3 separate regions of the Homo sapiens genome follow, and regions 1 and 3 are each linked to region 2. The links come from fine-mapping of genetic effects on gene expression. A gene starts in region 2. Each other region holds a variant in brackets. All regions are shown on one strand. Distances are between the middles of the regions.

Region 1 (10,100 bases), 36 kb after region 2:
TCCATTGTTTACTCTCCATTACCATCATCATTTATTTTGATACTCAAATTATCCCAAATTTGGCTGGTGAGGGCTCTTTCCAGCCAGCTCCTGTTCTTTTGACATGCCCACAACATTATCTGAGCACTTCCTCGCCTATGGCATGGCAAGAGTCTAGGCTCATTTAGTACTTTCCCCATCCCAGCCTTGGAATCAACCTGAGAGAGCTACCGTTTTGTTGTTGTTGTTTTTTAACATGGTAGAGTTTTAAGTCAGGTACTGTCATCGTTCCTATTTTATAAATGAAAAAGAGAAACTCAGGAAGCTGGATATGTGGTTAGAGATAACAGAAGAATGAAGGCAACTCAATAACATTTTGCTACCATGCCACACAAAACCATGAGGAAAACACCATTAAAATAACAACTGGGCCATGGTAGTGATTTGGGAAGACCAATTTAACTCCCATTTGAGATTAGGGACCACTGCTCCCTCACCCTGGAGCACTGGCTAGCATGCGAACTCTTGCCAACTTCATCCTTGACAAAGAAACAGAGAAAAAAGAGAAGAGGCCATCAGCAGCTGCTGCAGTACCTGCTAGAAAACCAAATGCACTCCACACTGGTGTTTAATTGTCAAACAGACAATGGAAATTTGATTGCACTGAATTTTGAATATCTTCAATTTTAAGATTTATCAGAAATACACTGTCTGGGTTTTCAAAAATAAATATTTATTATCATTGGTGAATGTGATGTATCCTTGCTGGATTTTTACTATGTGAAAATACATTTTGTATTGTTTATTGAAAATGTAATAAATTGATGCAATAAGACAATTTTTAAAAAAGAATCCTCTTTTCCCAATACCCCCAGCATTTTTGACAGCTTTATTGAGCTAGAATTTTTACAGCATAAATTTCAGCTATTTAAAATGTACAACTCAAGTAGTTTTCAGTATATTTACAGAATTGTGCAATGTCACCACGTTTTTAGAACATTTTTATTACCCAAAAAAGAAACCTTCTGCCCATTGGTAATCACTCTTCATTCTCTTCCCCATGCAGCCCTAGGCAACCACTAATCTACTTTTTGTCTCTATGAATTTGCCTGTGCTAGATATTTCATAGAAGTGAAATTATACCAGATATGGTTATTGTATAACCAATGACTGGTTTCTTTTACTTAGCCTAGTGTTTTCAAGGTTCATCCATGTTGTGGCATAATATCTCAACATTTTAACTTTTGTTTTTTTTGAGATGGAGTCTTGCTATGTTGCCCAGGCTGGAGTGCAGTGGTGCTATCTCGGCTCACTGCAAGCTCTGCCTCCTGGGTTCACGCCATTCTCCTGCCTCAGCCTCCCAAGTAGCTGGGACTACAGGCACCTGCCACCACGCCTGGCTAATTTTTTTTTTTTTTTGTATTTTTAGTAGAGATGGAGTTTCACTGTGTTAGCCAGGATGGTCTCGATCTCCTGCCCTCGTGATCCGCCCGCCTCGGACTCCCAAAGTGCTGGGATTACAGGCATGAACCACTGCGCCTGGCCCATTTTAACTTTTTTATGCCGTCATAATGTCCCTCTTCCCATGCGATACACATCAGACTTATTTTCCTTCTGCTTTCTTCAAATAAATATATTAAGCATGTCTTTATTTCTACAGAATTTTCTTCTTTGTAAGTTTTAATGTCTATACCAGTAGTGAATCCCATGACATCCCCCTACAGTGGAAATTTCCAGGCTTGTCATTTCAGACAATGCAGTCGTTCCTGTAATCCCTATGCATGCAGTCATTCAAGATGAATCTGTTTACAAAATCTGAGCCAAAGGATGACCCACAACAATAAGCACTTTACTACTCAACTGTTCCCTCTTGCAGCTAAATGAAGGTTTTGTCCTCGGGAGACGGTGACATCACCTCTAGGGCTGACAGGCCACAGCAACTGACCTCCTCATCTGGGCTTCTCCCCGGAAGAGGTGGAAGTCATTGTCATTGTTCCTCACAAAGGGCCGCTGTGCTGAAATGCAAAGTAAACAAGCAGAAATGACAGCCTGCTTCATTATAGAACTAGCACTTCCTTCTCACACTCATTTCTTAGTAAACAGACGTGGGTTTGTTTTCACTTTTTACTTTTTATTGGTGAATATGTATTTAATATGCCTAATTTATATATATATATATATGCATAGAAACTACAGTATTGCAGTTCTAGGTAACTATTATCCAGCTTCAATAATTATCAGCCCATGGCTAATTTTGTTTCCTCTGGACATTTACCTCCACTCTCCACCTCCATTAACAAAAGCTTCTTACTGAAAATTATTCCAAATAGTTACTTCATTGTCCCTGCCCTGTCATCCCATAGATCCAATTATTTTCATTTTGTTTTCAACAGATTATTTTGGGAACATTACTATGTGTTTGGCACAATGCCAGGTCCTGGGGATACAAAGATGAAGATGACATTGTTTGGGAAGTTTACAGACCAGGAACTAGAAACACAAACATTGTATTTTATGATAACATGAGGTTGGAGGATGGCCAGAGCTGATCCTGACACAGCCTGGATCAGGAAGCAGTGGGGTTTACAAACAAAACCATTAATAGTAATTACATGGCCCGGCGGGGTGGCTCACACCTGTGATCCCAGCACTTTGGGAGGCCAAGGTGGGTGGATCACCTGAGGTCGGGAGTTAGAGACCTGCCTGACCAACATGGAGAAACTAAAAATACAAAATTAGTCGGGCATGGTGGCACATGCCTGTAATCCCAGCTACTCGGTAGGCTGAGGCAGGAGAATAGCTTGAACCTGGGAGGAGGTTGCGGTGAGCCGAGATGACGCCATTACATTCCAGCCTAGGCAACAAGAACAAAACTCTGTCCCAAAAAAAAAAAGGTAATTACATGCTGGGGCGAGGGTAAGTTTACAGTAAATTTGCTAGTATGGAAGTGCTTATGTGCTATTATTTTAAAGTTTAGCTGGGGTTAAAGTAGCTACAGCAATGAGGTTGGAGTTGGCTAAACTGTGAAAGCAAGTTCGATGGAACCCTGGGTCCACTGTACTGGGTATGAATCACAATCTAGATAACCCAGAGTACTTACTGCAAAGTCAGCGATAGCTCTTCTGTTTTCCACATTGCCGCAAATTTCCCCTAAGGTGAGGCCTGCAGCTAGCTTGAATGGGGAAAGTCAGGGGGTAGGTATAAATTAATATCTTCATAAATTTGTATCAGCCTCACAGGTATGAATCTGTTAAATGTATATAAACATATAAAATATATATGTATCTCTATATAGCCAGCCAAAAGTGGGAAGAAATTGAATTGCCTCTGTATTAAGAGAGACATAATAAAACCAGACAGTAGCTTTGCCTGCCTGATGAAGGGAGGTGGCTCCTACAGGCCACCTGGCCTAGACAGCTGACACCCCCTGGGGTACGGGGACAGTTCTTTGGTGCAGTGATCAGCATGTCCTTAACAGACTGTTCCCGAGGTAATGCCTACTGCGATCTGCTCACCTGTGATCTGTCCACATGCCGTCTGCCTGCGCTGGGTTCTGTGCGTGCACGCAAGTCTCTCTGGTCCAGAAGCCAGAGCTGGGATGGAATTCAAGGAACCACAAAAGTCTCCCTCTCACTGTCAATTTTGAAGAATGAATAAGGGGTAGGCAGGCAAAGGCAAAAAACTCAGGGTGAGGGCATAAATAGAAGCAGAGGTATCGAGGCAGGAAACAGCACAGCCAGGTCACAGCAGTTCAGCACCCACTGGGACAAGCGCAAGACAAGAAGTATGGAAGGAACACAGGCAGGCGAGAAAGGTAGGGCCAGGTTCGAGAAGGATTCCTGCGTCCTGTGAAGGAACTGGGCTTCACTGAGGGCTGAGAAGCAGGATAGGTGGCGCATTAGAAGGAGTCCTCGAGCAGCATGTGGACAGCACATGGGAGCAGAGGATCCAGGCAGGAAGGTGGTGCGGCGTCAAGGGCAGAGGGAGGCAGCCTTCAACCAGTTCAGAAATGAACCAGGGCTGTCATGGGCAGGGTTATGCCCTGCACCGCCCCCCCAACTTATGTTGAAGTCTTGACCCCGGGTACCTCACAATGTGACATATTTGGAGACAGGGCTTTTATTTATTTTGTGAGACGGAGTCTCGCTCTGTTGCCCAGGCTGGAGTGCGGTGGCGTGTTCTCGGCTCACTGCAAGCTCCGCCTCCCGGGTTCAAGAGATTCCCATGCCTCAGCCTCCCCAGCAGCTGGGATTACAGGCTCGCTACCACAGGGCAGATCCCTCATGAGAGTAGATCTCTCAAGAATAGCTTGGGCCATCCCCGTGGTAACAAGTGAATTCTCGCTCTATTAGTTCACAGGAGAGCTAGTTGTTTAAGAGAGCCTGGCAGCTCCTCCTCCCCCCTTGCTTTCTCTCTCACCATGTGACAGGCCTGCTCCCACTCTGCCTTCCACCACGAGTAAAAACTTCCAGGTCGGGCGCGTTGACTCAAGCCTGTAATCCCAGCACTTTGGGAGGCCAAGGTGGGAGGATCACGAGATCAGGAGATCGAGACCATCTTGGCTAACATGGTGAAACCCTGTCTTTACTAAAATACAAAAAATTAGCCAGGTGTAGTGATGCATGCCTGTAATCCCAGCTACCCGGGAGGCTGAGGCAGGGGAATCGCTTGAACCCGGGAGGCAGAGGTTGCAGTGAGCTGAGATCACGCCACTGCACTCCAGCCTAGCGACAGAGCAAGACTCTGTCTCACATAAACAAACAAACAAACAAACAAAAAACAAGCTTTCTGAGGCCTCACCAGAAGCAGAGGCAAGCACTATGCTTTTTTTTTCTTTTTCTTTTTCTTTTTTTTTTGAGATGGAATCTGGTGCTGTTGCCCAGGCTGGAATGCAGTGGCACAATCTCAGCTAACTGCAGCCTCTGCCTCCAAGGTTCAAGTGATTCTCCTGCCTCAGCCTCCCAAGTAGCTGGGATCACAGGTGTGTGCCACCACACTCAGCTAATTTTTGTATTTTTAGTAGAGATGTAGTTTCCCCACATTGACCAGGCTGGTCTGGAATTCTGGACCTCAAGTGATCCACCCATCTTGGCCTCCCAAAGTGCTGGGATTACAGGTGTGAGCCACCACCCCTGTCCTACTATGCTTCTTATACAGAAGCATAGTATAAGATTCTGCAGCATTCTGTCTGCAGAATTGTGAGCGAAAATAAACCTCTTTTATTTATAAATTACCCAGCCTCAGGTATTCTTTAATAGCAACGTAAAATAGACTGACACAACAGCCATCTACAAGCCAAGGAGAGAGTCCTCAGAAGAAACCAACCTTTCTAACATTTTGATCTTGGACTTCTAGCTCCAAAATTATGAGAAAATAAATTTCTGTTGTTGAAGCCACCCAGTCTGTGGCAGCCCTAGCACTCTAATACAAGGGTACAATACGAAGTGGAGGAGGGTCAGGAAAATCAGCAAGACATCAGTTGCAAGAGAGGATAGAGAAGAAAGGATCGGGGAGGTCTCCCAGACCTCTTGTTTGACGACTGAGTAGAAGGCAGTGTCACTACCTGTAACGGGATCCAGGGATGAGGTGGATCTCAGGGCCTGTGGATGAGACATCCCAGTAAAAATGCGTAGCAGACAGTTGGATGTAAAAGTCTGAAGC[G/A]TTTCAAGAAGAGTGAAACAACCATGATTTTTGTCCCATTTCTGGGACCCTATTGCTCTGTGATATCTCTGAGCCTCAGTTTCTTCAACTGTAAAAAAGGTATATTGGCGGGGCGTGGTGGCTCACGCTTGTAATACCAACACTTTGGGAGGCCGAGATGGGTGGATCACTTGAGGGCAGGAGTTTGAGGCCAGCCTGGTCAACATGGGGAAACCCCATCTCCAGTAAAAATATAAAAACTAGCCAGGGGTGGTGGTGCATGCCTATAATCCCAGCTAGTGGGGAAGCTGAGGCAGGAGAGTCATGTGAACCCAGGAGGCGGAGGTTGCAGTGAGCCGAGATTGTGTGACTGCACTCCATCTCAAAAAAAAAAAGGTATACTAATACCTTTCCTGTCTACCAAGGAGAGTAGTTGAAGGGGCAAATGATAATAATACCATACATGTAAAAATTTCCTGAAAACTGAATAAGGCAGCATTAAAAAAAAAAAAATATATATATATATATAATTATATATAAGCTTTTCTGGGACGCCACTTTTAAAATCAAAAGATGATTTTAAAGCTTTGTTGAGTTCAGTTGAGGCTTTAAGAACAATTTGCCACAAAATGACAAAGCTCGTTCTGGGCATGATCATTTTATCAAATCCTGGATCTGGTAGTTAAAAGTGTCATTGTTTTCTTTTTTGTTTTGTTCTGTTTGTTACCAAAGGCTATAATTATTTGGTGGCAATTTGCCATTTCTGGAATCTTAATCATACTGGCTTATAATGTGGTCTGCTCTGAACAGAGCTTATTTATAACTACACAACTATGTGCATTTTCTTTAAGACTTAGGAGGAATATTATAAATCAGGGATAAATTGTTTCATAAGTGAATCAGAAAGAAACTAGAGAAGTAATGAGCTTTGACTGCCTTAGGTATTGTTGCTGTGATTGTTAAATGCATTAGCTAATAGTTTTACCATGGATACTATATAATACTATCACACCGTATATGTTTTAATAATCATATCAAAGCAATCCATGGTGCAAAATAATTTCTAAACTATGATTCTAAGGTTAAACATGTCTAAAAATGAAAGTGGTATGACCACCGTTTGCCACTAGGGGGAAGCAATCGATTGACCATAAACTCATCATGTCTCAGCGGGCGTGGGGCTGCCGGTTGGATCAAGGAATCTTGAATGATTCTTTCAGCTCAGAGTCACTCTGTGATTCCACTATGCTTCCAGTTTCAAGTTCCAATTGAGTAAGGAAATACCTTTTAATATTTTAGATAACGTTGCTAAGTATAACGAGGGTTATTTCTCAGCGGGGTGTTGCAGGACCCTAGGAAACAAAAACTGTTAGAACTTTAGAGGTCTTGACTGGGCGCAGTGGCTCACGCCTGTAATCCCAGCACTTTGGGAGGCCGAGGCGGGCGGATCACGAGGTCAGGAGATCGAGACCATCCTGGCTAACACGGTGAAACCCCGTCTGTATCAAAAATACAAAAAATTAGCCGGGCGTGATGGCGGGCGCCTGTAGTCCCAGCTACTCGGGAGGCTGAGGCAGGAGAATGGCGTGAACCCGGGAGGCGGAGCTTGCAGTGCGCCGAGATCTCGCCACTACACTCCAGCCTGGGCGACAGAGCGAGACTCTGTCAAAAAAAAAAGAATTTTAGAGGTCTTACATCCTACCAGTAACCTGTAACGTCACAGCCATAAAGGTTTTCTCTCTGGTCCTCTGTGTCAGCGCAGGGTTGTAAAAATCAAATTACTATACTTGATTAATAACTCATCAAGGATAAAATAGTATAATACATAGGCCCAGCAACTCTAACAAGTGACTGGCCTTTTTTTTTTTTTTTTTTTTTTTTTTTTTTTGTGAGACAGGGTCTCACTTCTCACCCAGGGTGGAATGCAGTGGTGCGATCTCAGTTCACTGCAACCTCCACTTCCCGGGCTCAAGCAATCCTCCCACCTTAGCCTCTCGAGTCTCTGGGACTGCAGGCGTGCGCCACCACACCTGACTAATTTTTGTATTTTTTGTAGAGATGGGGTTTTGCCATGTTGTACAGGCTGGTCTTGAGCTCCTGAGCTAAAGTGATCCGCCTTCTTTGGCCTCTCAAAATGCTGGGATTAGAAGCGGGAGCCACCACACCCTGCCCAAACTCAATTTTATATCTATAAAGTTTCATTCTTTTTAAAGATTATCACTGTAATAATATATATCAGAAAACTTAAAAAAATACAAAATTATGAGAAAGAAGATAAAGATGAAACCACTGTTTATATTTTATTTTCTTAAATGGTTTCCCAAATTACTGTATTTAATTAAGTCAACACCTTAAATCTCTTCTGGAATAAGGAAAGCAGGATGGGTAGATAGACCGACACAGATGTGAGGAATTATCTCAATAGTTTCCAAACCTGGCTGATGGTCAGAATTACCTGGTGAGCGTTTTAAAACTAAATCAGAATCTCTTTGGAGAGGGAGGAGAGGAAAGAAGGAAGCTAGACTCCAGAAAGAGAGAGAGAGCGAGCGAGAGAGGAGTGTGTGTGTGGTGTGTGTGTTTGGAGTTACCCAGTTGATGGTTTAGAGTTGGCATTTGCAAACTGCTGAGGTAAACAAGTTTGCAGGTGTTGCCACAGAAAATATACAGAGCTTCCTTGGTGTTCATGGGGATGTAAAAACAAAAAAAAAGAAAATATAAGGACCAGAATGGTTAAGAACTTAAATTCAACCCCAATAGTGAAGACCAAATTAGAATTAAATTATTTTACCAAAAAAGAAAAATTACTTTGTCATATGAAAAATCGTGGCAAGCATACATTTGACGTATTGATAACTGTAATGATACGTTTGGGTTTTTTTTCAGTCAGTGTTCTTTTATTAGAGAAAGGAGTTTATTGTAATCCTCAATACTGAGAACAGTTTGTCTCTGAAAGTATATGTAGATGAGCAAACTGCTAAACAAGAAAACAGTCCAGGCGCAGTGGCTCACACCTATAATCCCAGCACTTTGGGAGGCCAAGGTGGGCAGATCACGAGGTCAGGAGATGGAAACTATCCTGGCCAACATAGTGAAACCCCGTCTCTACTAAAAACACAAAAATTAGCCGGGCGTGGTGGCACATGCCTGTAATCACAGCTACTCGGGAGGCTGAGGCAGGAGAATTGCTTGAACCAGAGAGTTGGAGGTTGCAGTGAGCCAAGATCACACCACTGCACTCCACCATGGTGACAGGGCAAGACTCCATCTCAAAAAAAAAAAAAAAAAAAAAAAAAAGAGAGAAAGAAAGAAAAGAAAAGAAAACAAGAGTTCTCATTCACAAAGGACCTCTGCAGTTTAAAAATAAAAAAAGGCATCAGGATTTCTCAGGACAGTCACTTACATTTCAGGGACACCAGATTATTCTCTTTTTAATTTTGAGACAGAATCTCACTCTGTCACCCAGGCTGGAGTACAGTGGTGCCACCGCCGCTCACTGCAGCCTCAACTATGGGCTTGTGCCACCACACTCGGCTAATTTTTGTAGTTTTTGTAGAGACAGGAGTCTCACTATGTTATCCAGGCTGGTCTCCAAGTCCTGGGCTCAAGTGATACTACTGCCTCTATTTCCCAAAATGCTGGGATTACAGGTGTGAGCCACTGCTCTTGGCCCAGGGTAGTATTAAAGGAAGATCCCAGACCTGACAGAGGTGAAAATAAGAGAAAAGATGATTAGTCTCCTTTATTGTGGAAGCAGAAGAATGCCAAGAAATTCTTTAAAAGGCAAGTGGTTGGCCATTAATAATCGCCTGGGCTGGGAGTGCAGTGACTGTGGGACTTTGCATAATTTGAATGTTTATTTTATTCTAATATTTTTCCAAGAAGAAGCCATAATTTTATTTATGATAGAAACAGGTACAAATTTCAAACCAAGTTGCAGTTATTCTTTTGAAACACACAAAAACAGTCATTTTCAGGTGGTCACATTGTTAATTCTGTAATAGCAGTTACAATATGATTACTCTTGTTCTTCAAGGCTCGGACTTCCTTTGCTCTCAATACATTTGCTTGTGACATGACCAATTCTACGTCCTTAACTTCCACACCTGTATCATCAACCTTTTCCTCTCCAGTCTCGTCTTGTATAGTTGGAGTCTGTGTGTTTTCTTGAATGTTTGAGACAGCTCACTCTGTGTCTTAGCAGGTGCTACCCATGCTTGTTAAGATAAATCCTTGATCTTGGCTTCCCCAAAAACACACACATAGGTATCCGAAGCAGGATTCTTGTAGACATCTGGTTTTGTGATGACAAAGAAGATATTCTTAGATTTCCAGTAGTGACTGTAGTAACCCCTGTTATCTACGGAAGACCGAGTTTGGACATAGCCTTACGTGCCTTCTTTTCACTCTAACTCTGTTTTGCTTTACTGATTGACACTCATTGATTTCAGCTGCTGCTGCCAGCTGGGCTGCTTGTGTGGTAT
Region 2 (11,021 bases):
TGATTACCTCTTTCCCCAGTTTCATGACAAAACTGAATGTTATGCTGTTTGTTCAGAAATTCTTAAGGTTGGGGGTATGGTGGAGAAGGTACTCCTCTTCCTTTGGTGGAGTAGTAGAAGAAGGAAGAGATTTTCAAAGAAAAGTTTATAAGCACAAACGCATCTCTCAATCTCTGTCTTAGAGATGCACTCTACTGCCAAGCCTTGGGTGGGGACAACCTCCACATTCAATCTACAGGGACATTAGAAACCTATAATTAATCAGAGCAGAAGAGACACTGAAGAGACACCAATTACAGAGACCCGCACCTGGCAGGGCTGCTGCTCTCCAAGCCCAGGAACCGCCCTTCCATTTAGTTTTGGCTTTTATTACTTTATTTTTTGTTTGTTTTTTAGAGAAGGTTGGGCTCTGTTGCCCAGATTGGAGTGCAGTGGCATGATCTCGGCTCATTGCAACCTCTGCCTTCCAGCCTCAAGCCACCCTCCCACCTCAGCCTCCCGAGTAGCTGGGACTACAGTTGTGTGCCACCACATTCAGCTAATTTTTGTATTTTTTTGTAGAGATGGGGTTTCGCCATGTTGCACAGGCTGGTCTTAAACTCCTGGGCTCAAGTGATCCTCCTGCCTCAGCCTCCTGAAGTGCTGGGACTACTGGCATGAGCCACTGCACCCAGCCATTTTGGCCTTTATTACTTTATTCACATGAAACTATTTTGCTTTAAGGCAGCTTAGCATAGCAGTTAAGAGAACAGCCGTCAGACCCCCACTGCCCATGTCCAAATAGTGGCTATGCAACCTTTTATCTGTTTGACCTTGGACAAATACCAGGGCCTTTCTGTGCCTCAGTTACCCCCATTTAAAAGGAGGATAAAATTAGAAGCTTTGTTTGGGGATGTAATGAAGACTACACGTGTTAATGAAAATAAAGCACTGAGAATGGTGCCTGGCAACTAACAATGATGCCATGTCAACTTTCACTATTAAATTCACTAAGGTCAATCTGTATGACTTAGGTATGGGAACATTGAGACCACAGTGAGAAAAATAAGAACAACAAAAATGAAGTGCTAAAATAAGTCATCTGGCTTTTACATTCCAATCTATGTCAAACTGACACTTTAGAAAGAGCAAATGAGTAGCAGAGTTGTGCTCACAGTTTTATGTTCAAAATGTATAGATTTATACATGTATATTTTGGAGAGACAGACTGGAAGGAAATATAAATAAATGATTAACTATATGGTAGAACTATAAATGATTTCCCTTTTCTTTTTGCTTATTTGTATTTTCTATATCATACATGCATCACTTCTAAAATTTTAAAAATTTGTTATAAAAACCAGATAAGGATCATAAAACATCAGTATTGAGATTACCAAGGAAAGTGCAACTAAATGAAAAGCAGACCCACGTACAGACCAAGTGGCACCTGAACTTATTAAAGTTCGTATCTGGAGACCTATGATCCTGACTCCACCACTGAGTAGCTTGTTGGCCTTGTCACTTAGTCGCGCAAACTTGTCTTCACAGCTGTAAAATGGCCTGCCTGCCTGCCACACTGAGTGGTTGGGAAAATAAGGCGCTTCACATAGTGATGTGAAGTTATCCTTGGGAATGTGGGCTACAGCACTAAAAACCATTAAACACAGAGTCAGCTGCGCACAGTGGCTACTCAGGAAGTCCCAGCTATTCGGGAGAATGAAGCAGAAGGATCCTTTGAGCCCAGGAGTTCCAGTCCAGCCTGGGCAACACAGTGAGAACCTGACTCAAAAGTCATCCAGGCAGCTCACCAGAAGGGCTTCTCAAGAAAGTTAAGCACTGCTTAAGAGCATCAAAGATTTTTCTTTCTTTTTTTTTTTTTTGTTTTGAGACAGAGTCTCACTCTGTCACCCAGGATGGAGTGCAGTGGCACAATCTTGGCTCACTGCAACCTCTGCCTCCCAGGTTCAAGTGATTCTCCTGCCTCAGCCTCCCGAGTAGCTGGGACTACAGGCGTGCACCACCACGCTCAGCTAATTTTTGTATTTTTAGTAGAGACGGGGTTTCACCATGTTGGCCAGGATGGTCTTGATCTCCTGACCTCGTGATCCGCCCATCTCAGCCTTCCAAAGTGCTGGGATTACAGGTGTCAGCCACTGCACCCAGCCTAGAGCATCTAAGATATTTATACCAGGATATCCATCAAACTGTTAATAGTGCATCCTTCTGGGAAATGATACTATGATGGGGAGAAAAGGGACAGTTTCACAGTTTATTTCTATATTTACGTAGTTTTGTTGGACTTTTGTTTTATAATATGCATATCATTTTATAATTAAAAATAACCTGTTTTGTTAGTGTTCCTGCTGTGAACTGGGTAACTCCACTTTTTAGAATGTATCCTAAATAATCAGATATGTGGGCCAGGTGCAGTGGCTCATTCCTATAATCCCATTACTTTGGGAGGCCAAGGTGGGTGGATAACTTGAGGTCAGAAGTTCGAGACCAGCCTGGCCAACATGGCAAAAACCTGTCTCTACTAAAAATACAAAAAAGTTAGCTGGGCATTGGGGTGCATGCCTGTAATCCCAGCTACTCAGGAGACTGAGGCACAAGAATTGTTTGAATCCGGGAGGCAGAGGTGGCAGTGAGCTGAGATTGTGCCACTGCACTCCAGTGTCAACAGTAGAGCAAGACTCTCTTAAAACAAAAAACAATAATAATCAGATATGTAGACAAAGACGTTCATCACAACATTCTTGACAATAGTAAAACAAAAATCCTGCAAAAAACTCAAATGTACAATAAACAAACTAAATAAATTGTGGCCATTCCATAAAATGGAATATCACACATCTACAAAGAGGTTTTTTCAGTAATCTGGAGAATTATTTAAGTATAAAAAAAAAAAAAAACAAAGCTTACCATAAACTATAAAATACAAAATTACCTAAACTTGTAAAAGGAGTAACATACAATATGCATAGAAAAAGACAATAGGCCAAAATGTTAACAGTGAACTAACTCAAAATGATTATATAATTTATCTTTGTATCATTTTTCACTTTTTCCAAATTTTCCTCAATGAACACAAATGGCTTTCCTAGTTAGAGAAACAACAGCTTTAAAAAAAAGGAAGAACAGGCCAGGCGCGGTGGCTCATGCCTGTAATCCGAGCACTTTGGGAGGCTAAGGCGGGCGGATCACAAGGTCAGGAGTTCAAGATCAGCCTGGCCAACATGGTGAAACCCCGTCTCTACTGAAAATACAAAAAATTAGCTGGGGGTGGTGGCAGGCACCTGTAATCCCAGCTACTCAGGAGGCTGAGGCAGGAGAATTGCTTCAACCCAGGAGGCAAAGGTTGCAGTGAACGGAGATCATGCCACTGCACTCCAGCCTGGGCGACAGAGCAAGACTCCGTCTCGGGGAAAAAAAGAAATAAAAGGAAGAACATACAGCCAAAGGAAGAACATACAGCCAGTGGTCACCTCTCCCCAGGGTTCCCCTCACAATGTTTGGGGGCCTTTTTGAAACTACCTGGTCAGCCTGCTCAGTGAACGAGTCTGTCATTTTAACAATGATGCTAGCGCTGGCCTCTTCATTCTCCACCACATCAACGCTGGCAACCCACTGGAAGGAGAAAACAGCTTTGGTTAAGAGGCAGTGAGTTGTTATTCCATGAAAGAGTCACACATAGAAATGAGGGGAGTTGGCCAGGTGTAGTGGTTCACGTCTGTAATGCCAGCACTTTGGGAGCCAATGTGGGAGGATCTCTTGAGGCCAAGAGTTTGAGACCAGCCTGGGCAACATAGCAAGACCCAGTCCCTACAAAAAAATTTTAAAATTAGTCAGGTGTGGTGGCACATGCCTGTAGCCCCAGCTACCCGGGAGGTTGAGGCGAGAGGATCACTTGAGCTCAGTGAGCTATGATCGCACCACTGTACTCCGGGCTAGGCAACAGAAGGAGGCCTTATCTCCATTTAAATAAAAGAAAAAGAAAAAGAAAGAAAAATAAAGGAGCAGAGTGGAGACAGGTAAGAGGCTTCAATGAAAACACACCCTATATTGGGCTCCATCCCAGGCCCTCCTACCTCCAAACACTCTACTCCGCCTCCACATTCACCTCTAAAACACAAACCCTGCACTTCTAGAGACATCAAGGGCCAGCAAATTTTCTGTAAAGGGCCAGATCACAATTACCTTAGGCTTTGCTGGCCATATGGTATCTGTTGTTACTCAAATCTGCAATTGTAACAGAACACAGCAATAAATAGGGGGAAAAAATAAGTGCAGCTGTGTTCCAATAAATCTTCAGAGCTGAAATGTGAATTTCATTAATTTTCATATACAACAAAATATAATTCTTCATTTGATTTTCTTTTCAACCACCTGAAAATGTAAAACTATTCTTAACTCTTGGGCTGTACAAAAACAGGTGGCAGACCAGATTCAGCTCACAAAGGATCCCTGTCCTGCAGCAGAGAGGGATGGACTTTAGGATTGGAAATCAGACAGATCAGGTTTGAATCCCAGCTCTGCCAGAGTGGCTTTCTCACTCCGATGCCGGGCAGAGGTTCCCAACAAAAGAGGTTGTTTGTTGATGATTAACAGGGTCAGTGTAAGAATTAAATGAAATGGAAGATGCTAAAGCTCCTGGCACAGGGGATGTTCAGTCCTTACTCAGGGTCTCTTGGTCTGAAGTCCCCAGAGATAATTATCTCTACCTTAAGCTGTAAACACAGCATCTATTCATCAACATTTGTTATATTATTAATTAACTTGTTATCCCATGGGGGATACTGAAACAATGAAAAGTCTCCATCATCCTAGCCCTCCCTAAGATGGCAGGAAGAAGCTCGGAGGGGAAAGACCAAGAGCCAGAGGTAAATCAGCTCTCCAGATTCTGCCAAGACCAAGGTAAACCAAAGTGCCACCACCAGGAGAAAGCACAGCCTTCACCCTCTAACACATGACGCTAACAGGATCTACTGCCTTAAAGATATTGGGGGCATTAAGAGTCTATGGGAACTCTGGTACTGGGAACACAGTGCCTGGCCCTTGGCAGAAGTGCTGCCTCTGTCACCACCATGCATCTCTGAAGACCTGGGAAAGCGCCCTCATCAGTGTCCCCAAGCACTGAGCAGATGGGTGGCAGGAAGGGAGTGGTGTGACTGAATTCTTCAGAAGCATATTCCTGTACCAGATTCTGAGCAACAAGAAAACCTTGGTAAATGTACACTATTTGGGTGATGGTTACACTAAAAGCCCAGACTTCACCACTACACAACATATCCATGTAACTAAACTGTACTTTTGCCCCCTTCATCTATAAAAATTAGATAGTTTTTTTTTAAAGAAAATCCTGAAAGCCTTTTTCTGGTCCCAGGGGAACTCTTGCCCAGGCTGCTGTGCTGCTGCTGCTAACTAAGCTCCCAGAACGCTGCCGCTGGCAGTGTCTCCACCGGGAAATTGCTGAGGCCTGCTGAGCGGCTGAGGTCAAGGGTCTTTGGCCATGTATCAGCTCTGCTCCGACTTGCCGCCTCCTGGAAATTGACACCTGACTATGCAAAGTAGTTGAAATAGTCTTTGCAGAGCAAAGAAGCCGTCAGCGTTTTTCCGTGCTGAGCCTTCAAACTGTCAGATCCAATGGGGCTAAAAGAACAGGGGTGGGTAGTAATAGTAACATTAATAGACAGCATTTAAACAGTTTTTACCAGGCGTCAGGTAATTTATGTGCAACGACACCAATTATCTCATCTAATCGTCCCAACTCTCACTGTCAGAATCTCCGTTGTACAAATGGGGAAACCGAGGTCCTACGGCGTTAGGTAATCAATACGCGGTCTCATGACTAGTAACCGGGACTGGGCTGTCTCATTCTAGAGCCTTCCTTCTACACTCTCTCTCCGTCCTCTCACCCCTGCTCCCGTTCCTCCCCTTTGGAATTCTCTCCCGAGTCACGCCGGACTTTTTGGGTCTGGCGGAGGCCCACGGAGCACCTCCTTGCACAGCAAAGGCCCAGCGCCCTGGGACTGGCGTGCGCACGCACTCGGAAACAGGAATAGACGCGTAGACCTGTGCGCGCACGTGCAAGCAACACGAGTCAGGGGGTGCACAGGGGCCCCCACCTTCCTCTAGACTGCCCCCCGCCGGGTTCCACACGAAAGCCCCCGGCCACCCCCGCGGAGACCCAGCAGCCCCAGCCCGCAGCATTACCCAGTTGCGGGCCCGAAAAGCCTGCACGCATCGAGAACCCAGAGCGCCCCTGCCGCCGTACACCAGCACCCGGCGCGCCTCGCCTGCAGCCGCCGCCGCCGCCATCCTGCTCCTGCCAGCCCGGCTCCCGCAGCTCCGAATGCCTCGAGCCGGAGCGCCGCGCCCCGCCCCGGCCGGCCAACCCCGCCAAGAGGGAACGCGCGGCGGCCGCGCCCCGCTCCGCGCCCGCTGCTGCCGCCTAGCGCGCTGCCACGCTCGGGGCGCCCCGCCACCCGGAGGGACTGTAACTTCGGCCAGGCCCTGCCCCTGGGACGGGGACATCGGCGAAGCCCCTCCTCCCACCCGCCAGCAAGTGCTGGGCCTCGGGGCGTGCAGCGAGCCGGGCTAAGGGCGAGGAGGGTGGAGAGCGGGTGTTTTACGAGCATTAATTTGTGAAGTGTAAGCATGTAAAATATAGTATAGTACAATTTTCGACCACTGTTTTGGCAATTTTTTATTTTTAATTGTGCATCAAAATAGAGATTTAAGTATTCCCACCTGCCAAAAAAACAGAAGAGGTCGCTCCGCTCAAGGAGCTGAAAGTCCACCGCCGAGACGAGACAAACCACACTAGGTCTTATTTCTTCTATCTAACCGTAAATTTATACCCATTAATCCAAATGGCCCTTTTACTATATGCCACCCATCGCCAGACACAGATCCTGGCATTTTCTCCCTTGTATATTAGTTATTTCTGCCCATGGCCTGTATCTTTAACACAGAGCCTCTCATCTACAGCACTACTGACATTTTGGGCCAGATAATTATTTGTGACAGGTGCTGCCCTGGGTACTGTAGGATATTTACAGCATCCCTGGCCTGCATATACTAGAAATCAATAGCAAACCCCTACCCCTCACTCATAAGAATCAAAAATATCTCCAGATTTAACAGTTGTCTCCTAGGGGCAAATTCATCACTGATAGAGAACCAGAGCTCTAACACTCTCATAACCTTCTTGATAGCAGAACCCTGTATTACATACATCTTTGTGTCACTTCCCATCCACATATAACCTTGTACACAGCAGACACAGATGTTTGTTCAGTAAACTTGTGCCAGGTAAAGCATGCAGAAATATGTCACTAGAGAAGAGGATGCAGCCAGCAGCACATTTTGTTGTCAGAAGCTTCATTATCAGAAATAGAACTGCTAGGAGGCTGGATGGAGAGGAGAGCACCATCTATTTAGTGCTCCTTATATCCAAGGCACTGCGCTAAGTGATCTGCCTGTGCTATTTCACTTTACTCCACACGATAATCCTATGCAGATTAGAAAGCTGAGGCATGAGAGTCACAGACACTTGTCTGGAAGAGTGGGAATTTGAACACAGGTCTTCAATAGCTAGAGTTCCACTTAACCACACCTTTGTTCAGCAAGACAAAGGCTTGTTGGGAATCAAGTGTTTCCCTTAGAGTTTTTCTGAAAACAATTGCTTAACCCTCAAAACACCAAAAGTTGACACAGGTCCCTCACTGACGGCAGAAATATGACTCAATGATATTTACGCAAGTCCTGACTTGTCAAAGCATGCTTAATGTTAAAATAAGAACGTGAACTAACATTATTGATCACTTAATGTGCCAAGCAGTCTTCTGAGCCTTTTATATGTATTCTGTTATTTTTTACCAGAAAAACATTTGCTGTTTCAAAGTCACTGGGATGAAGATGAGCTGTTGTAATTCAAAGACCTGAATTTCAGCCCCAGCACTGACATCCAGTTTTTCATGAGAGAAATGGCTGAAATCGTGCATCTCCTGTTTACCTTAAAGGGTTGCTGGAGCATCAGAGGTGAGCAAGCATATGGTCAAAGCATTTTGCATTTTGTACATGGTAAAGTGCCACTCATCTGTATATATAGTAAGAGACAGGATCTCACTCTGTTACTCAGAGTGGCATGATCATAGCTCACTACAGCCTTGAGCTCCTGGGCTGGAGCAGTCTTCCAGCCTCAGCCTCCAGTAGCTGGGACTACAAATACACGCCATCAGGCCCAACTATTTTTTTTTTTTATTTTTTGTAGAGATAAGGTCTCACTACATTGCCCAGGCTCAGAAATTCTCATTTTTATTTTCATTGTGGAGTGGCCACTGAAGTGAGCCCCAGTTGCGAGGAAGGAAACTGACATTTCCATTAATGTGTCCCTCTGCTTCCTTGACACTCTCCAAGTGAGATTCCTGGGACCCCTATTGGTTAACAGTGCAACTTCCTGAACCCCCCTTCAGGCTTCTGTGACCAACTAAGAAATTTTACTGCTCCACTTTTGCCCAACTTTGCTCCCCAGAGATATGGATAGAGTGACTGTTGCCAGTCTCACATGATGTTAAGTTGATATTCAGGAATAAGGTAAAAGTCAAAATGTCAAAGTCCACAGTATAAGATAGAAAGGAAAGAATATTTCATTCCTAGTATCTACAGATTAAAAGGAAAGCCTAGATCTTCCACTATTAGAAGAGATGAATACCCCAGCAGTGTGGCTACTATTTGCTAATACACTAGAAAAACACTTTTCTCTCCCATTTCAGATAACGTAGAAGGAGGGACGGGTGAGAGCAATGTTAAGTGTTGGATTCCAGGCTACCCCAACAGCCACAAAGTAATTCTAGTCACAGTTTACCCCCAGCAGATTCACACAGTGAGAAATTCATAAGGCCCTATTTACACATTTCAATATTAAAGCCCCAAGAACCGGGGTCATTTGATGGTATTAATAACAGTCCTAAAGATTCTGACAGCAGTGACATTTCAGAGAAAGAAATGCCAGGGCACCCATGCATCAGCGAGATCGACATTTGATACTGCGCATTGTTGGCAATATTCAAGTGCTAATCATTCTGTTTTTGTTTTCCTTCTAACACATGCATTTTTTGAGATTGGTTTGCGTCTCTTAATCTTCAGAGCTACCTGATTTTGCTTATTACTAACTCCTTTATCATTACGAGGTCCACACCAGGGCTATTTAAATACTTGAAACGAGGAACAGTTAAACAGTCTGCTGAAACATTAGTCTAGGAGGAGATATAAGGTTACTTCCTTCAGTAACACACTCCGCTACATAGTCAGGTGAAGATTGTCTCTGTAGAGGCTTCTGGATGTGGTTGTAGGAAGCATGGACTGTGCAAGCTTGCGCTGAAGGAGGACGAGAGGATGGACCTACAACCTTGAAACAGAGTGTTTGGAAGAGCTGACCTTGGAGCAGAGCATTGCCGAGTATCTGAAAGATGTCAATGACCCTCGCTGCTGCTCGGAGACCTTGGGGATGACCTGCACCCACTAGCATGCCTGGATGGTTCAAAAAGGCGTGGTATGGGCTGGCGTCTTTACTCAGCTTCTCCTCCTTCATCCTGATCATCGTTGCCCTGGTAGTGCCCCACTGGCTGAGTGGGAAAATCCTTTGTCAGACTGGAGTGGATCTGGTCAACGCCACAGACAGAGAGCTGGTCAAGTTCATTGGGGACATTTACTACGGGCTCTTCCGAGGGTGTAAAGTGCGGCAGTGTGGGCTTGGGGGCCGCCAATCCCAATTCACGAGTGAGTATATTGGGAGCATGAAAGCTGATTCTAGGCACTCATTTTTGTTAATGTGTAAGAGTGCTTATGTCTCATTGTGGAATTTGGCTGCTGCCTCAACGTCAGGCATAATGTCAAAGTCCACAGTGAGCCAAGGGTTCTGGATCCACATCAAAAAGATCTTTCCTTCCTTCCTTGCTTCCTTTTCTTTTTCTGTAGAGATGTATAGAAACATTAGAAATAAGGATTTGTGCATTTTTGCAGTTTACCTCTATTAATTATGACTATTAAAATATTGAGAGTTTACACGTGTCAGACATTGTAAGCACCTCACGCCACTTGTCTCCTTAAAGCCTTACAACAAAGTTATACAGAAGGAATTGTTAATGTTCCCATTTTCCAGAGGAGTACACTGAGGCTTGGAGAGGTTACATAACTTACCTGAGGTCACCCAGCCAGGAAACAGTAGAGCCGGACTCCAGACCCATGCCACATGACCACAACAAGTGGGTGGAGGCTGCCTGCAGAACTGAACCTTTGGGAAGCATGATGACCCTTTCCACATCTACTTTTGTAAAAGCTTCATAGTCTGAGAAAATGCAAAGGGGCACTGTGCTTGGGTTCTGGAATCAGACTACCCTGGCTGAAACCCCTACTGGAAAGTTTACTGGTGGGGAGACCTCAAGCAAGGCACTTGCCTGTTCTCTGTGAACGTGAGCGGGCACCGACTTTGGCTGGCATTCAGTGTAGCATCAGAGCTGCCCAGGATGTAAGCAGAGCAGTCTGCACAAACAGGAATCCAAGCTGGACTTAGGAACGGGCTTCTGGAAAGGAAAAAACAAAACAGGCAATATTCTGCAAGCCTTTTGAATCGATGAGATCACTGGTGAAAAGTGTCTGCACAAAACCGTAATTAATCAATACCATGCCAATGTAGGGTGATACAGAATTGTATTCATTCCTTGATTTCTATATTTCAGTATTGTAGTAGTTTATAGAAATCTGGCCAAGGTAAATGTCGTATTAAATTTATAAGGACAAAAAGCTGGAACCGTTGACAAATATAATACAAATTGTCATCATTTAAACACACAAAAATTTACATTTGTTATGTATATTCAAGATCAATATGTCTGGGCATATTTATATTTACCTAGCAATTAGATTAGACCCTGGATATTGAACAAATAGCTCCATCAAAATTATAACATAAAACTTGAAAACACACACACATAAACAAATAAAAAAAAGAAATGCTAAAAGCTAACCATGACAAC
Region 3 (5,350 bases), 22 kb before region 2:
CTGGACAAGGCCACACTGAGACAGGTTAGTGACTTTTCTGGCAGGCCCCTCATAGGCACTGAGATGAGGCCTAAAAATATGCTGGGGTGAGTTCCGTCCTTCCTTCTGTGGTTACCACCTGGATTAGGCTTCCTGAGCTCGGTCGGTTTTTCCCTGTGATCCAGTCATGGAAAGTTCTGGAACAGAAAATAAAAGTTTTTTTTATATTCTCAAAGCAAAAATCTGGGCACATGCTGACCTTCACAGTGACGGCTTGTGGGGTGGGGGGAAGGGGTGGCACAGCAGCGACTGTTTAAAAGCCACTAAGGGCTGGGCGCCATGGCTCACACCTGTGATCCCAGCACTTTGGGAGGCCGAGGCGGGCAGATCGCTTGAGGTCAGGAGTTCGAGACCAGCCTGGCCAATATGATGAAACCCCATCTCTACTAAAAATACAAAAATTGGCCGTGGTAGCACGTGCCTGTAATCCTAGCTACTCAGGAGGCTGAGGAAGTAGAATCACTTGCACCCGGGAAGCAGAGGTAAGCCGAGGTTGCACCATTGCACTCCAGCCTGGGCATCACAATGAGACTCCGTCTCACAAAAAATAATAAATAAATAAATAAATAAAAGCCACTAAAGGTCAGGCATTATGGCTCACCCCTATGATCCCAGCACTTTGAGATGCCAAGGCGGGCGGATCGCTTGAGCCCAGGTGTTTGAGGCCAGCCTGGACACAATGGCAAGATTCCATCTCCAAAAAATAATAAAAAATTAATAAAAGCCAGTAGGCATGATGGACACATACCCAGGCCCCCAGTGAGTTCAGTGGTGTACTCATTCTAATCTCTGAGTGGCAGGATTTGGCATAAGTTTAACTTTCATTTTGGTATTTTTCTACATTGTTGGAATTCTTTTGTGATTTTAAAAGATTCTAATTTGGCCAGGCGTGGTGGCTCACACCTGTAATCTCAGCAATTTGGGAGGCTGAGGCAGGTGGATCACTTGAGCCCAGGAGTTTTTGAGACCAGCCTGGGCAACTGGGTGAAACCCTACCTCTAAAAAAATACAAAAAATAGCTGGGCATGGCACATGCCTGTAGTCCCAGCTACTCAGGAGGCTGTGGTGGGATGATTGCTTGAGCCCCGGAGATCAAGGCTAGGGTAAGCCATGATCGTGACACTGCACTCCAGCCTGGGTGACCCAGTGAGACCCTGTCTCAAAAAAAAAAAAAATTGTTTTTAAAGATTTTAATTAGTTCATTCAAAGAGAGAGACACATGCACAATACTTTGCTATATTACCTTCTCATAAATTTATGAGAGAAACAGATGCAATTCATTTATTTGGCATTTTTTTAATCAAACATTTATAGAGTACCCACAGCTGCACCAAACAATGGAAAAAGAGATAGAAAAAAACAGACTATTACAATAAAATGTTAAATACAGTAACAGGGCCTTTCACAAATCTGAGGAGAGGAGCAACTGACCCCACTTGCAGCAGTCAAAAAGACCCTCTAAGAAGACAGGAATGAAAAAGGGCAAAAGAAATTCACAAGAAACAAGAAGTAGATGATAATTCTTTAACACAAAACATTTACATTTGAGTACATCATCCATTTTGACAATTCACCAGCTGAGACTTCGGACCTTCATTAACTAAAAAGTGCTCAGCATTTCCTTCCTGGGAGACTCCCAGTGCCAATCTGTAACCTTCTGGGCCAGCGCTGATGTGTAAAGGTCCAGTCATTCAGGCCCCTACTCTGGGGTTTGAACAAGCTCATATGAGCACATGGGCTCAAAAAACAAAGCGTTGCTAAAACTCTCTAAAGTACTGTCATGTCATGGCCTCATCTCTGGGGACAGGGTAGGGCTTGGTGAGGGAAGGCTCTGAAAGAGACCAGTGCCGTTTGGTTGTGTAGGGTTTTGTGTGTTGGTTACACATGTTTTTTTGTTGTTTTGTTTTTTTATACTTTAAGATCTAGGCTACATGTGCACAGCGTGCAGGTTTGCTACACAGGTATGCATGTGCCATGTTGGTTTGCTGCGATGCATGTTTTAAATGGTTTTACTTCTTCACCCTCATCTGCAGCGTGGATAGGTGAGTGAGAACGCCATTCTAACCAGGGATGGTAGAGGAAGGATGTGCTCACAGACATCTCAAAGCAAACTTTATGCCAGCTTTTCTGAGAGTTTTCAAATACCACAAATGGGTGGATGTGATCTCTAGAACAAAAGGGGGCCTGTGACAGCCCGTCCTCTGTGGGTCTGTGGCTCAGCACGAGTTCAGACACAAGATCCCAGATGTTCCATCTAGAGTAGGTCTTAGATCAGTATCTCAAGTGTGGTGGGAGTGTCGGCCTTTAAAAAGAAATTCAAACACAAACACAATTCAAAGCTTGATTTCCTCTACAACTTCAATTTTTTTCCTGCAAATCAAGCATGAAGCATGATTCCTGGCATAGACAGAAATAACTGTCAGCACACCAGTTAAGACCATAGGTTCTGCAGCCACACCACTTGTGTCAGATCCCGGCTGTGCTGTGTGACCTTAGGCGAGTGACTTAGCCCCTGCCATCCCTCCAAGTCTCTAAGCCTTAAATAAAAATGACAGCTCCTCCCTCAGAGTTTGCTATGAGCATTAAATAAGAGTTATGAAGTGCTTAGAATGGTGACTGGGACATAAAAAGTGTTCTGTAAGTACAC[A/G]TTTCAAACATAAAACGCAAGTCCCAAATTTCTCCCGATTTAATTTAAATGAGATTGTGACATCAGGCCAGAAGCACACTGCTAACTTCACAAACATCTCTTATAAACAGTCGTCAAAGCAGTTTACACAGAGGCACTACTGGGTCAGGCTGTCACCTTGACCCTCTCGGCACCCCTGCTCCCTGTGGGCAGGGATCCCATCTTTGTCCTCACCGTGACCCCAGAGCCGAGGGCAGCACCTGGCCCATAGTGGGTGCTCGATGAACACATGCTTACTAACTAGAGGGGCTTGAGGAACTGATACCTAAACAAACACAAAAGAGGAATTCAGCTCTCTGTCCCATGAGCGTTCAAATGCCACCCATATTCACAAATGGGCAAAAAGGATTTCGGAAATTAAAGGGCACTTTCTGTGGGTCTGTGGCTTGACACAGATTCAGATATGTGCCCCCAGGCCATCTACGTGGTGTCCCCCTCCCCCATGGAGTCTCCTCATCACAGCAGTAAGGACACAAACTGCAGCTGGGGATCACTGAGCACTTGTTATGGCCAGACACTGTGTTGAGTGCTTGCCGCACACTATCACGTTTAATCCTAACAAGCATGATGGACCTCATGATACAGGTGGGGAAACTGAGGCCTCAGCAGGTCAATAATGTGCTCAGCATGGCCGGTGGTGAGGGAGCGAGCCAGGATTCATGTCGGCACTACCCATTCTGCCACTGTGCTGCCTGTCTCCAAGTCCAGCTACTCTGAGATTCCGTCTGATGTGCAATGCATCCTCAGAGTCCCAGAGACCTCCCAAGACCACCCGGATTGACGATCTCAGGGAACACAGACTTGTCCTCTGGACCACAGCAGGCAGAGAATAGGGGCTGGAAGCTGCTCAGTCATGGACATGTCTGTAATACTCACTCAACTAGGAATTCTAAGGGTGTCCAGGAGCTGAAGTCAGCCTCAGGCATTGATTTCCTGTTCATCGGGGTATCCAGGGTAACCCTGCAATGGACACAGATAAGCACGTCATTCATGTCGCTCCTTTCTAACAACAGGTGCCCAGTCCCCCTTGGCCAGGAAAACGCAAACATACAGCAGGACAACCTAGAGCCTCTGGCACTGAGGGTGCTATTTACATGGAAAGATCAGACAGAAAGATAAGCAGAGAGAGAGCAGGAAGCTGTCCCCGCTAGCAAAGGCCAGATCTGAGCATAATTCAATAAGGTGCGCTGTGGCTCACCACTTAGGCAGATAAGAACAAAACAGAAGGAGCCACATTTTGCCTTTTTAAAAAAGAGTCTTCACTGAATTAAACTGCTTTGTTGCTGTGTCTTTATTCACTCCCTAACATGCAGCACACTCATTTCTAAGGATTTAAGATAGTTATATGCCTTTAAATATGAGAATACTAAAATACTAAAATTTTAAATATGTGGCTATTTTCCACAAAACCTTAAGATTTTTGGCAGAATAATATAGAATTCAGATATGCATGAATCTCCCAAGAACATCAAGGCCTCAGGAATCATTCGAATCATTCAAAACAGCTGTGGGAATCATGTCACAGAATCACAGAACCTCACAACTAAAAGGGAACCAGAAAGTCAATCAGTGCAGTCCCTACAGTCTCAGCATCCCTTTATAGGACCACAGGCAAGAGGCAAGCCTGCTGGTGCTGGAAGCCTTCCAGCGAGAAGGAGTAGCCTCCCTCCAAAGCAGCTGCCTCTGCCTGGGACAGCTGATGGGGGACAGTCCCCCGATGACCAACAGAAACACCTCCAACAGTTTCCCATATTCTCTCTCTCTCACACATACATACCCCATATAATGACTTGAAAGACAGAACTACATATAAAAAAGTAAAATGTGTAGTCTAATTTTAAAGGAAGAAATGAAGGGAGAAAAGAAAGGGAGAGGAAAAAAAGAGGCAAAAAAGACAGACCCATCCAACCAGCCAATCAAACATTCTGGACAGCCCAGGAGAACCCAAAACTGGAAGTATTGCTATGGTCTGAATGTATCCCCCTCAAACTCACATACAAAACACAAACTGCAACATAATAGTATTAAGAGGTGGGGTCTGCAGGAGACAAGTGGGGGCCTTTAGGAGGGGATTAGCATGCTTATAAAGGAAGCTGGAGGGAGCCCATTTGCCCCTTCCACCGTGTGAGCACATATAGAAGGCGCCATCTATGAGGAATGAGCCCTCGCCAGGCACCAAATCTGCTGGTGCCTTCATCTTGGACTTCCCAGCCTCCAGAACTGTGAGCAATACATTTCTGCTGTTTATAAATCACCCAGTCTAAGGTATTTTGTTAGAGCAATTCAAACAGATTAAGATAATAAGTATCTTAAGAGACTTTGGTGTGTTTCAGAACCAGAGGTGAGAGCACACCCAGGTCGCCTGTGGAAAGCTACAGTCAGACAAACGGTCACCTGCAGCAGTGGGGCAGAGGTGGGCAGCAGCCAGGGAACCCCAAGCACTTACGGGAGCACAGCGATGGCGGCTGCCCCGGGCGGCATGCCGCTGTTCTTCCCAGCCAGGCTCTGGCAGAGCTGGTGAACAGCACCCTTGGCCATGCCGTACCCGATCATACCTGGGAAATGGGGAGAAGATGGCTCAGTGACCACTGGCGGCCAGGGGGACAGCAAGGACATGCAATCTTC

The links. PIP is the estimated chance that this variant, and not a neighbour inherited with it, causes the effect.
Region 1: its variant is the best candidate, but not a certain one, in a credible set for the expression of QDPR in skin (TwinsUK, PIP 0.75).
Region 3: its variant is the best candidate, but not a certain one, in a credible set for the expression of QDPR in whole blood (INTERVAL, PIP 0.59).

Annotation. Positions count from the first base shown.
Region 1 is chr4:17,542,517-17,552,616 of GRCh38, forward strand. It overlaps the pseudogene NACAP5. Among named protein-coding and RNA genes, the nearest start is that of LAP3, 30 kb to the right of the region's middle. RefSeq lists enhancers at 2,256-2,852, 7,028-7,147. The variant G/A (reference allele first, on the strand shown) is at 5,641.
Region 2 is chr4:17,505,755-17,516,775 of GRCh38, forward strand. It overlaps QDPR (quinoid dihydropteridine reductase), which reads right to left and starts at 6,336. Exons shown (of 7, transcript NM_000320.3): 1 at 6,196-6,336; 2 at 3,517-3,609. The coding sequence starts at 6,300. CLRN2 (clarin 2) reads left to right here and starts at 9,411. Exons shown (of 3, transcript NM_001079827.2): 1 at 9,411-9,765. The coding sequence starts at 9,513. RefSeq lists a silencer at 5,965-6,544.
Region 3 is chr4:17,487,061-17,492,410 of GRCh38, forward strand. It overlaps QDPR (quinoid dihydropteridine reductase), which reads right to left. Exons shown (of 7, transcript NM_000320.3): 5 at 5,172-5,280; 6 at 3,602-3,685; 7 at 1-176. The coding sequence ends at 71. Among named protein-coding and RNA genes, the nearest start is that of QDPR, 22 kb to the right of the region's middle. The variant A/G (reference allele first, on the strand shown) is at 2,687.